Linked DNA regions of Homo sapiens. The protein of the gene in region 2 purifies or fractionates together with the protein of the main gene of each other region. This does not show direct contact. Each region holds a gene or a part of one and is shown on either strand. Other genes may lie near its edges.

Region 1 (3,500 bases), on a different chromosome or scaffold from region 2:
AGATCCAATGTGCATAAAATAGGAATCCCTGAAAAAGAAAAAAAATAACAGAATTAATATTTAAAATTATAATCTTAAAAAAAAACACTTTGCCAGAGATAATAAAAATTCTGAATCTACATTTTGAAAGGACTCACTGAGTACCAAGGCAAAACAATTGACCCATATCAAGTAATCCTGAAGTACCTTGCAAAAGTACTATATTTCAAAGATAAAATCTTCAGGGCCAGCATCTTTCTTAATGCAAACACAATGTAAGCATTTCCTTTAGACTGAAACAAGGCAAGAATGCCCACCATCTCCACTACTATTGAACACAACTGTAGTGATGGCACTAAACAATATAATTAGGCAAGAGAAATTAGAGTTCTAGGAACTGAAAAAGAGGAAGTAAAACATCTCTATTTGCAGATATGATTCATTCTCTAAAAAAAAAAAGAGAGAGAGATTTAGGCTGCTTGCTTCTGCCTCAGAGTTGGTGCTGTCATGGCCAGTCAGTCTCAGGGGATCCAGTAGCTGCTGCAGGTTGCTGAAAAGGGTGTCTGAGACCTGCAGTGAAAGAACCGGAGGGAGAAGCAGGCCAAAGCAGCAGTTCAAGGTGAAATTGAACAATATTGCCTGCAGAGGGAGAAAGAGTTCAAGGCCAAGGAGGCTGCTGCCCTGCGATCCCAAGGCAGCTGCAGCATTAAAGTAGAGGAGACCCAGGAGAAGAGAACCATCTGGAAGCAGTTTAGGCAGAAGAGGGGTGAAGTCTTGGCCTTTTTCTGCAATATCTGGTAGTCCATTCCTGCTAGTGGTTAGAACAATGAACACTAGTATAATTGTTTGGGCCAGTTTTAGTTACTTAATCAAAGAGGACAGAATTCAAGAACTTGTTACATGTTACTACTTGGTGTACTGATAATCATTTAAAAGTAAAGACTCTTTGTCATGCAAAAAAAAACCCAAGGAGGATGAATGAGAAAATTAACTCAAACAATAGAAGAATTCAGTAAAAAAGCAGAATATAAAATTTATCACTCAAAAAAAATCAATAGCTTTCTTACATACCAACACAACGAGTTCAAAGATATAAATAGTTGAAGCAATTTTGATTTACCATACATTAAAAAAAAGATTAAAGACAAAAACAACTCTAAACTAATATTTAACTCTAATTAAATATTTAACTCTAATTATTAGGCCCCATGCTACTGTATACCCCACAGAGGTACAGTGCTAGCAATTCTGAAGCAATAGTTTCTCTGCATTCTGAGACTCAGCAAAAATGTAAACAGATTGTGGAAATAGGAGCCCTGTTTCTTGTTTTTTTGTTTGTTTGTTTGTTTCTTTTTTTTTTTTTGTAGAGACAAGGTTTCACCATGTTGCCCAGGATGGTCTCGAACTCCTGGACTCAAGCAATCCATCCACCTTGGCCTCCCAAAGTGCTAGGATTACAGGCATGAACAATGGTGCGTGGCCAGAGCCACATTTCTTAATGTTGAATAGGCAGTTTCAAATATAAAAAGGAAGGAGGCTGGAAGGAACTCTGTGCTATACCACCAGAATTACAGGTGTCAGTAAAAACTTTGTTTTTTACTATAGACAGAAAAAGAAATATGTATTCTTAATTAAAAAAAATAAACATATAGTATATAACACTTTAGGAAAAATGAGTGCCTCACAAAGGGTAGGCCACCAAAGCCCCCAAAGAATCTACCTATGAACACTGAGCATGAAACCACTGCAGGGGGGTGAGGGAGACATTAAAAACGATACTACACACTTAATTACTATCACCAAGAATGTAACAAATTAATTCAACAGTCATTCAACAAATATTAAATACCTGTGATGAACAAGTATTCAATATTTTTTACTTTCTGGTGTATTTTGGAAACAGACATTCCAATTTTACACAGATATTGTATCTTTACATCTTTTTGAGTACTTATTTCTTATTTGGAATTTTTAATCACATCCCATGTGGTGTTAGGCACTGTGCTGAGGGTTTTATATACAATAGTTCTTTCTCTCGACACAAACAGCAAATTTATAAATTAGATATTATAAACCCTACAAATCTGGAGCCTAAAACTCATAAAGAATTGGTACATATACTATGTGGCAGACGCTCAGACATTAAGCCAGTTCTATCTGATTCAAACGCTATTGTTTTTACCTATGATATGCTGTATCCTGTCTGGGAAGACATGCACATATTATACAGAGAGAGTTCATTCCCAGGCCATCCAAAGAATTTCTCTTAGTCTATAATGTAGCAGAAATGATGGTAAAACTCATTAAAATGACAGATCTGCTTCTTGTAGATCTTACTACTCTCCATGGTACTTAGCCAATCTCTTGCACTTATAATAGAAAAGCACTAAGTATTTTTTTAAATTATTAAAATCAAGTTAACCATAATATTAATAATATTGACTTCATATCTGGCAGATAGCATGCCTGTCATACAGAAGACAAAAAGGAATCAAATTTCTTTTCTCTATCTTCATTTATAATCAATCTATATTTAGTTACCTCCTACGTTATACCAACTATGCATAGAAGAAATGCAATAATGATTTCTGGTACACTACAGACTAACAGAAATTTACTAAATGGTCTAGGAATGAAACTACAAGTATAATCTCCATGTATAAGACAATATTTTCAAAAATATATAGTAAAAAAACCATGAAAAGAATTAAAATGTTCACTAGAACATATTCACTTAATCTAAGAAAAAGCAATAAAGGAGAAATAAGGAACAAAAAAGGCATGAAACATATAAAAGCAAGTAAAATGACAGCTTAAAATCCAACTATATTAATAACAACAATAAGTGTGAATGGATTAAACATTCCAATTAAAGGCACACATTGGCAAACTGGATAAAAAGACAAGAGCCAACTATATGCTGTCTATGGAGACATACAATAGATGCAAAAATATAAACAGGCTGAAAGTAAAAGGATGGAAAAAGATATATAATGGAAACAGCAACCATAAAAAAGCTAGAATAGTAGTATTTATAACAGGCAAAACAGACATTAAAACAAAAAAATGTTACTAGAGATAAAGAGGAACATTTTACAATGACAAAAGGAAGATTAAAAAAATTATAAACATACATGCACCAAACATCCAATCTCCTAAATAGATGAAGCAAACACTAACAGAATTAAAGAGACTTCAATACCCTGTTTTCAATAATGAATAGAACAAGTAGGCATAAGATCAGCAAAGTAGAAGATTTGAACAACACTAAAAAACAGATATCTATAGAACACTCCACTCAACAACAGCAGAATACACATTCTAATCAAATGTTTATTGAACATTATCCAGGATAGATCAAATGCTAAGCCATAAACCAATAGTTACAGCTACACAGGGCTACTGCCTACTGTATTAGATAGCTGCCATGCATAGATAGTACATACTCCCTGATGATAGCATCCTAAGATGAGCTGGAATCCTTTTCCTCAGTAGTTTTGAGAAATATAAAGTGGGTACAA
Region 2 (2,927 bases):
AAAAAACACAGCACCTCTAGTCATTTGTTCAGAACTACACAAATCAGAGGAATCAATTGTCCCCAGGCCAGAAGGGAAAGGCCATGCTAATGGAGATGTGTCCCTCAAGGTGAACTCTTCTTTACTACCCCCGAAGGCCCCAGAGCTGAAGGATATAATCCTGTCCTTGCCCCCTGACCTTGGCCCAGCCCTTCAGGAGCTCAAGGCTCCTTCTTTTTAGGGATATGCCACATTACCTGCTCCCATCACCATCCAGCCCAGCACCCTGGACTTCAGTCGCCTGGCCCAACCCCATGATTATGGAACGTCTCTTCACCTTAACCCAAATCCAGACCCTTTTGTGGTTTCTATTTGTACCACTTTTCTCCCAGGCCTCAGTTCTGAAGCTTACCTTTCTTCTAAGGAATTGAAGCTCCCAGTGACCTGGAGGGAGGATTCCTGGAAACCAAACAATCAGTTTAGGTGCAGGTGGAGATGTTGAATATGTGTTACCAAGATACAGCACAGGTTCAGGGAAAAGAGTTCGCTACTCCAGGGGTTATTTAGAAGACACTTTCTCTGCCTCATCCTGCCCTCAAGCTTTAGTCAAGAAGTTATGGCCCCCAGTCCCTGACTTCTTACTTATCCCATTGAGGACTGCCTTTCTCTCTCTCAGTTCTGGCCTCTGCCCCCCAAAGTCAGCTCTCTAAAAGCAAGCATGTTTTAGACCACTCACTCTTTCCCTCTTTCTTCAGGAATGAATTGGGAAAGGCTGATGAGTAAAACATACCATCCTTTTCTATTTTCTTGATGCTGTTTACAACATAGTTTGGTGATATCCAGAGCTAATGTACATGCTTTCAAAAGCTAATCTGCCTGTTGATGGTAACTAGGTACAGCGACTTTAAATACAGTTGCTATAATCCTGAAAAGCCCCAGGAGCACATCAGGGAGCTGGGAAACACAGTTGCAGAGAACTCAGCTGTATGTTGCCCTCTGACCTTGGCCCAGACCTTCAGAGGCTCAGTCTGTTGAGTCTGTTGTGACTGTCTTATGAATCAATCTGTTGTGCCAACCCTTTCTGAGATTCAGAGAGGTCCAGCTAGAAAAAGTGGCAGTTTTAACCACCAACGTAGAAGCTTTTTTTTCCCCACAAGACCATTGTACTGCAATACTTGAGTATTTGTGTAGCAAACAGCCTCTTAGGTTGGAGAGTATTGATTTCAAATAGGAAGTTGGTAGACTAGGTGTGAGGATGAAATAATGACCTTGATTTTTGGGTGTGTATTGCAGAAGCCTCGTCGCTTTCAAGTCACATCATATATGCGATCTGGCCTAACCATGGAGATATTGGTTATCAGTTTGCAGATGAATACACAGTTCTATCCAACAGAAACTGTATCTTTCTGTTTGTCAGAAGTTCTCCGTTAGTTCCTGTATTAGTCAAGGTTTTCCAGAGAAACAGAATCAATATATATTGGGGCAGGGGGGCGGTGGTTATTATAAGGAATTGGCTCACGTGATTATGGAGGCGGTTAAATCCCAAGATCTGCAGGATAAGTCAGCAAGATGGAGTCCCATGAGAGCTGATGGTTTAGTTCCAGTCTGATGGCAGCAGGCTTGACGCCAAGGAAGAGATGATGTTTAATTCAAGTCCGAAGGCAAGGAAAAAGCTGATGGTCCTGTCCAAAGGCTATTAGGCAGGAAGAATTCTCTTAGGGCAGAGTTAGCTCTTTTGTTCTATTCAGGCCTTCAACTGATTCAGCAAGGCCCGCCCACATTTGGGAGGACAGTCTGCATTACTCAGTCTACTGATTTGAATGTTAATGTCATTGAGAAACACCCTCACAGGAACACTCAGAATAATGTTTGACCAAATAGCTGGGCATCTTGTGACCCAGTTAAGTGGATACATAAGATTAACTATCACAGTGACTCAGTGGAATTTTTTGTTTGCTTTTGTACAGTTTTAAAATAAAAGTTTGGTATTTGTGTTTTGGTATGCTGTTATTTTCATTGTGAATGAGGAGTTGTGGGGAAGGTAAGAGATTGGTTTCCAAAGAGCTTTGAGTCCCCCAAGGCAAGGTTTAGCCACCGTTCATACTAAAGCCATAGTTTTATTCCTGAGTCTGCTCTCTAGTATTTTATTTTATCAATTTATAAACAAATAGTGTTCATAAGGCACACATATTTCACTCAACCATATTCAGTTCCAAACATGCATTCCTGAATATCCCAATCTTAAAACTAACTCACATTGTCAGCTTGTGGAGGCAGAATACATGCATACATATACACATACATACATGAATATACATATAATATACACACACATATGCATACATACACATATACACATGTATACATGTATGTGTATATACATATCTGTACTACATAGGTGTATATATATGTATATGTATTTAGCATGTATGCACGTGTATATGTATACACATATATACATATGTATGTATAATACATATTCACACATGTATGCATGTATATACACATGTATACATTAGTATATGTATATACACATGTATGTGTATTATACATGTATATATGTACATACATATCAGTCTACTGATTTGAATATTAATGTCATCAAGAAATAACCTCAATATATGTATGTATTATAACCTTACAACTATATAAAACATACATACATATATATGTATATATGTATACACATACACATGCATGAGAATATATGTATGTATATATAATATCCTCACAGTAATTCTGCCAGGGATTTTATGGGGGAGGGAGTTGGTACTCCAAATGGCTAGGTGGTAGAGCCAGAGTTTTATACTTGGTTTATCTAGCTCTGAAGGCAATGCTCCTTGTTCTTTGCACTGAAACATTGTGCAGATACGAGAAGCCTGTAGTTTACGTATTTCATTAGCCTTTTATTATTTTAAAAAATAAAACCTGAAAAAAAAGACCTAGTC
Region 3 (3,500 bases), on a different chromosome or scaffold from region 2:
TTTAAAAATACATTTTTGGCACTTACCTTTCATCTTATATTACTAATGATGGGAATCTCAAACATATAAAAAAAGAATTCAGTTTCTTAGGAAATTATAATGCTTTTGAAAAACTAAAATTTTCTTAGTAAGCCTAGCAATGAGGCTTGCAGGCCCTATCACATGGCAAGCATAATATCTAAAAACAAAAGTCAGGTCAGGCATGGTAGCTCACGCCTATAATCCCAGAACTTTGGGAGGCCAAGGCGGGCAGATCACTTGAGGTCAGGAGTTTGAGACCAGCCTGGACAACATGGTGAAACCCCGTCTCTAAAACAAAATGAAACAGAGCAAAAAAAAAAAAAAAAAAAAAGCCCAACAAACAAAAAGTCTTTGTTGTATGGAGTAAGAACTACCTGAGAGCAAATAAGAAAAAAGAAAATTGGAAACAAGCACTTGTTTTCTTCTACCAGGATATAAAATATGCCAAAGAATACAAAAGAGCTATAGGATAGGAACAAAATCTCCACATATCTCAGACTGACACAGAACAAGCTGTTTTATTCCTCAGATATACATGTCTCTACAATGAAACTGCACACAAGGTCCTACTTATTGCTTGCCCCAGAGAGTACTGTTAAATGTACAGAGACTGGGAATATATCTAAATGTGGAGACACTGGTGCCTGTCATTGCTTTTGGGGAAGAGGCACAGATTACCCCATTGGGCACCAATAAGACTGGAGCACTTCAGAATTAGACAGCTGGGATGGAACTATAGAGCCTACCAAACTGAGAATCAACCTTGTGTACCATAAATGTGCTTTTCTTCAGAAGGCCAATCCCACAGGGACTAGGACACAGACCCCATCAGCAATGGTAGTGGCTGCATTACTAATAAAAATACACATGATTCAGGGATACATGGTATCAGGTGCAACTGACCACAACCATCTCATGGTAAATACCTAAGCCTTGAGAGCCTTAAACGCTATTCTAAATATTCTGAAGGAATCTCCTTTCCCAACAACCACTTCATATGCCTAATATTAAATACTCAAATTTTCAGAGTATACTAGCTAGATAAGACACATTTAAATGAAACATTTGCCCAACAAGGATGCCAAACATTAGAGTTTGTTTTATTGCATGACGTTTGCATAAGAAAAAAAGTTATTGAAAACTGTAAGGCATCATGCAATCATTGAATAAGCTAATTATTAACTGTACACTTAAGATAGGTGGACATATAATCTAAAATTTAAAAACTAGTTCCAGAAAAGTACATAAAAAATTTAACATGATGAGCTTTTAAATATGGTTTATAGTTTCATGTTGTTAAAAAGTGCTTCAAATGTACTGCTGGAAAGTTGCTCTTTACAAATGGCGCTGGGGTGATGTCAGATTATAAACTGTAAAAACCAAGTACTTTTATGGAATTAGAAAGCTAACATTGTGATACTCAAACTTACTTGAATCAGTTTTCAATTCTCATTCAAATTAAGTTGATTTAATATTAATAATCTAAAAAACATCTGTTTTATAACCAGCAAAAGTCTATTGAATTCAAGTTATGCATGTTGAGCAATCAAATCTCTGAGTAAGCCTGAACGTTGAGACCTGGAACCAATGTGAGTTTGTGTTAATCAATGTACTGTGCCATCCAGCGGAAGCCTTCTCCGTAACCTTGTCTTTTGAGCACACTACACATGAAAACTTCTAAGGGTCGGGCATTCAGTTCTTTCAGAGATATACTCCCCTAGAATAGAAGAGAGACATTTCGTTGGAATTTTATAAAATTAATAAAGCCCCACATCCCAGCAGAATTATAGGTTCTATTTTAGAACAAAGAATGGCTGTGATAAATCCATGACTGTGATAAAGTCGTGGCTGCTTGGCATCCAAGCCCCATGAACACACAAGAAGCCTCCTTCTCTCACTCTACCTTAGGGCAGGATGGCCACTCAGTGGGAAAGAGGTTAGCTTGCAAGATACCCAAGAATAAAAATAATCTGACTTAGAAAAAAATCCAAACTGGCTTCACTAATATTAAAGACAAACATTCCCTGAGAAGGTTTATGACCAAACAAAGCATTTCCTAAAATTAATATCAAGCTAATTTATAAAAAAGAAGACAGAAAACAGACCAAAGTCTACTTTGTCTGACTTAAGAGCCTCCTGCGGACCGGGCGTGGTGGCTCATGCCTGTAATCTCAGCACTCTGGGAGGCCAAGGCGGGCGGATCACCTGAGGTCAGGAGTTCGAGACCAGACTGACCAACATGGAGAAACCCCGTCTCTACCAAAAATACAAAATTAGCTGGGCGTGCTGGCACACGCCTGTAATCCCAGCTACCAGGGAGGCTGAGGCAGGAGAATCGCTTGAACCTGGGAGGCAGAGGTTGCAATGAGCCGAGATTGCACCATTGTACTCCAGCCTGGGCAACAAGAGCAAAACTCCATCTCAAAAAAAAAAAAAAAGAGCCTCCTGCTATATGCTGCAGTATTTCTCCACCCTGAAATAGTATATGTAAACTAAAAAAATTTTGTAAATCTCTGGGGTTCTTCCACTGTTTATCTGGATTTTTTCAATGCTGATGTTTCCCCCAAAATAAATCCTAGGAAAAGTGAATACCAAAACAATCCGTCTTAAAGCTTATTATAAAGTATATGTTCAGAAAACCGTAAAATATTCCAAGTTTATGTCTTATTTATCTCTGGTAAACTCAGGGCCTAAACACACTACTGGTATACTTAAACACTCAAATATATCGTTTGGTGGCTAATTCTGAAAATGTATGATAAATAACTTTGAAAGCTTTAATTTAGTTTCCTATAAGCACAAGCCTTAGGCATAACTCATCCTTGACATTTTTGTTGTCACCAAGAAAATGTTTCATTCCATGGTAGAAAGAAATGAGGACATTAAAAAGACCCACAGGTATAAATGACAGTTTTCTTTAAGAAAATGATAATGGGCTTGTATAGTTGGACAATAGTAATTTAAGAAGACATTTGTACTGTAGAATTAAACACACCCATCATAATTTTTTTTTTTTTTTTACCTTTCCTGTTGTCTGACCATATAAACCAAACATCTCTCGCAACCTCTCTTCACTGATGGCTTCAGGTCTGTCGATCTTATTCCCAAGAATCAGTATAGGCACATTAGCAATGGTTTCATCTGTCATTAGTGACTGAAAAAAACAAAACAATACAAAACAAGAGTTGATATGAAACCATCCAAAGAGCTTATTTTGATATGATAAAACAATAAAGGACTCATTTTCTACCATATCATGTCATACCAACGTTCTTTGTCAAACTTTCCCCACATTTTAAAGTGACCTCAATGAAACCATAAGCTAAATTCTTCTGTCTTCCTAAGGCTCTTCCTGTAAATGTTTACTCTGCTCATCCTTTAAAGGAGTGACATAGAACGTATAGAGCCAGCACCTTAGAAGTGAACAGATGTGGTTTCACTTCTGGCTCTACTGCTTTTGAGATGTGACTTTGGGCAAG
Region 4 (3,500 bases), on a different chromosome or scaffold from region 2:
CATCTTTTGTTATGCTGTGAACCAGAGAGGTTGAAAAACTATACAGTTGGGAGACCTCATTTCTATATGGATCCAGGGTCCTTTCACAAGTTTGATTTTTACAAAAGTAACCTTCATTTCTTTTACTTTGTCTCTTTTTGTCTGCTTCTTGGTGGTGCTCTTTGTTTGAAAACATTAACAGTTCCTTGTTTGTTTTCACTTGTGAACTTGGCACAGGGAACATTCTTGAGTTGCACTGCACTTTGGTTGTCTTAGCTGCTTCCTGTAATCCTGATTTAACAGATCGGTAGGCAAGCCTATTGGCATACTGATCCATTATCAACTCACTATTACCACCTTCCTGTTTTAGTATCTGAATAAGGTGACCTGCATATTCATCTGTCACACTTTCACAGCTGGGATACTTATACATCAGACCTGACATACAAGAACTTGGTGGTAATGAAAGAATAAACGGATCCACTTCTCTTGGGTGCACTACAGCCTCTATATCCAACTTCTCTTCTACTTTATAATCTTCGTCACCATCAGCATAACAACTGTTCTTCTTTTGCTTGAAAAGCATACAATTTCGGACTTTTGCTATTTTCTCAGCTTCTGTAATGACTTCTGCTGCCAGATCACCCGCAAAATTGCATAATGTTTTCAAATTTTCGTCTGAGGGGTTTAAAAAAGTAGGCGACACACTTCTTTGACTTTGCACATTTAAGCAAGGGTTTTTAACCTTGGGTTCTTGAATTATTTTGTTATCTAAATGGGAAGCTGCCATTTCAGTTGCAAGAGAAAGGATGTGTGTAGCTAATGCTTCTGCAAACTGAACCTTCTTCCCTGAGTGCTCCGACTTCACATCCACTTCTGGGAGCTCTCCACTTTCACTACTCTCAACTTCTTCAGAAAGAGATCGCATGAGTTTCAACATGAACTCTTCTTTTTCTATAGTATTTTGTTCATTCTCAGACAAACTACCAACAGATGAGTTGTGTGGAGTAGAAGGTGGTGTAGCAGGTGCAAACTCTTTGGCTAATTCTCCCTTGAGCTTTTTAGTTAACTTCTTGATATCCCATTCAGAACTAGCCCGGGATGGTACTAGAGGAGTTGATGGAGGAGTATCAGGTATTACATTTCTGTCTCTGACTTTCTGTTTATCTTCCACATGCAAACCATCTACACAGGTAAGTGCTGTAGATGAGAAAGTATGTGAATGAGGAAAGGGGTTTTCCTGTCCAAAAGACAAGGCCTCAAGTGATGTACTATTCAAGTTATGCTTTTTCAGTGGTTGATCCTTAGCAGATTCCTTCAAGTCAGATTTCTGACCTGTCACAGCTGGACAAGATGGCAGTGTCTCTAGGGAGGATCCATGAACCATAGAAACTTTACATTCTGGAACACAATCCTTTGCAGCTGAAAGTGAGCAGTGAGTTAACTGATTCTGAGAGTCAGGAAATTTGGGAGACTTTTCTGGTGTCAACTGTGATTCTTCTCCAGAAACAGGCAAGCTTTCCTTGTATACTGCATTTTTATCTATATTTGGGATCACTGATTTGCTCTTATCTATGGAATGTTTAATAATAGATTTAGATAACCGGTCAGCAAACATGTCCTTATTGCTACTAGCTTCACTGCATTGCAGCACTGCCTGATCACAGTGGGAAAATGGAGGGGTTTTCTCCTTTAAAGATTTAGTTAAATAATCTGTACGTTCATCAACCATTTTTGTAACTTCCAATGATGTCATTGACTCTAAAGTTTCATTTACTATCGTATGCACCACTGCTGCAGAAAAGTTGCTAATAATTGCAGGATCATTTGGTAATTTTGAGGAACTCTGCATTTCAATATCGTCATTAGTTGGTTTAAAATCATTCTGATTACCTGGATTGTGTTCTGAAGGTAAACAAATATTTCTGAGACAAGCTGCTTTTTCTTCTCTGTTTTTTGTGGCAATATGCACTTGGGCAGAATCACCATTTGAATTACTATCATCAGATGACAGATGAGCCTTGGCCTGACATGCAGTAGATGAAATATGATATGGGAGAAGGGCACTTCCTGCCAAGGGCACCGGTATAGAAGTAACAATTCCAGAAGTACAAAACAAGGCCTGCTGCACTGTGTATTCCTTTTTATATTCCTGCACTGGTTTTGTCACCATAATTGCTTGATTGTGAAAAGAAGGGGAAAACGTGACAGCCTGTGTCGATGGCACTACACTTTCTGCACTCACATACTTGATATTATCCGTAGAGACACTAACTGCTGCCTTTGTTGTAAAGGTCACATCAACTTGTGATAGCTCAATGAATGCTTCCTGTATTACAGATTCAGACAAATCTTTTGCATACAACTTCACTACTTTGTCTTCAAAGTCAAACGACCCACACTGTGGAGATGCAGGCGTTTGAGGATATGAAAACTGACACACCTCCATGATGCCTTCAAAAACAAGCTCTTCAGCAAGATCTGCAGCAAACCTAGCAACTGTGTTTGTGAATATCTGCTTCTTTACATACTGTAAATCTTTTAAGGCATTTGATAAAGCTTCACTCACCAAAAAGTTAGCCAGGCCACTAATGGCACGTTCTTTTAGTGAAAATGCACGCTGCCTTCTCAGCTCATCAAATGCCATCTGCAAAACAGATGATGTCAATTTGATGGCTAAGTGGTACAAAGCATTGGTACATGAAGAGACTCCTTTCTGTAAGTCTTTAAATGCACTGCCAAAACTTTTTTCCACAAGATCTGCTGCAAATTTTTGAATGCTATCTTTAATCATTAAGGATTTATTTTTAGATTTATTTTTTTGATCAAGGTTTCCATGCTTAAAAGTTACAGTTTTATTTTCTCCATGTTTAATACTGTTAATATTTGATAGGGTATTAGTATGGTGGGTACGAAGAACTGAGCCTAGTACTTCACATGAAATGCTTTTTGCATAGTCTTCATAGGTGTAATAAACAGAATCATGATTTTCATGAATCCTATCTCCACCAATATCTGTTTGGCAAAAACATTCAGCTGGAGTACAGCCTCCAAGAGGACTAAAAGCAGAGGATCGAATAGGACTAAATAAACCACTATCTTCCCTTGATGCCTTCACTGGGCGAGGAGAATCCGGAGCATCACACAGGTTACCATATGGAGATTCTGGTTTACGAGGAGTTGGCTTTCTAACATTAGCTGGGAGAGCTGGACGATCAAACTTGAATTTTTGAGGATTCATACATGACTTTCCATGTTTGTGCCCTTTCCTCTGCGATGACTTCCCTATGACGGGATCTTTGTTAAACAGGCAAGTCTCTAAAGTTTGTTCTAGTTCATCAAACTGATCAAAACTATCAAAAAATTCACTTACTTCTGAGTCTGAATCCTCTATATCATCTTTCATCACAGGAATTTTAGGCAGCTCAAGTTTTGCTTTTAAGCTTTTTTGATATCCCTCTTCATCCAAGAAAATAACAGGACTTGGACTTGAACATTCTGATTCAGATGAGTAGGCAGGA

What was found.
Region 1: the proteins of ERMAP (region 2) and AP3B1 purify together in Homo sapiens (affinity purification with mass spectrometry; 2 studies listed by BioGRID and IntAct, with this or other methods). This does not show direct contact.
Region 3: the proteins of ERMAP (region 2) and SAR1B purify together in Homo sapiens (affinity purification with mass spectrometry; one large-scale study listed by BioGRID and IntAct). This does not show direct contact.
Region 4: the proteins of ERMAP (region 2) and AKAP11 purify together in Homo sapiens (affinity purification with mass spectrometry; 2 studies listed by BioGRID and IntAct, with this or other methods). This does not show direct contact.

Annotation. Positions count from the first base shown.
Region 1 is NC_000005.10:78,221,699-78,225,198, forward strand, and holds part of AP3B1 (AP-3 complex subunit beta-1), read right to left. Parts: intron 1-3,500. UniProt on the Homo sapiens protein: Subunit of non-clathrin- and clathrin-associated adaptor protein complex 3 (AP-3) that plays a role in protein sorting in the late-Golgi/trans-Golgi network (TGN) and/or endosomes.
Region 2 is NC_000001.11:42,843,013-42,845,939, forward strand, and holds the end of ERMAP (erythroid membrane-associated protein precursor), read left to right. Parts: coding exon 1-220; 3' UTR 221-1,979; downstream 1,980-2,927. UniProt on the Homo sapiens protein: Possible role as a cell-adhesion or receptor molecule of erythroid cells.
Region 3 is NC_000005.10:134,605,329-134,608,828, forward strand, and holds part of SAR1B (small COPII coat GTPase SAR1B), read right to left. Parts: intron 3,176-3,500; coding exon 3,044-3,175; intron 1,739-3,043; coding exon 1,622-1,738; 3' UTR 1-1,621. UniProt on the Homo sapiens protein: Small GTPase that cycles between an active GTP-bound and an inactive GDP-bound state and mainly functions in vesicle-mediated endoplasmic reticulum (ER) to Golgi transport.
Region 4 is NC_000013.11:42,299,652-42,303,151, reverse strand, and holds part of AKAP11 (A-kinase anchor protein 11), read right to left. Parts: coding exon 1-3,500. UniProt on the Homo sapiens protein: Binds to type II regulatory subunits of protein kinase A and anchors/targets them.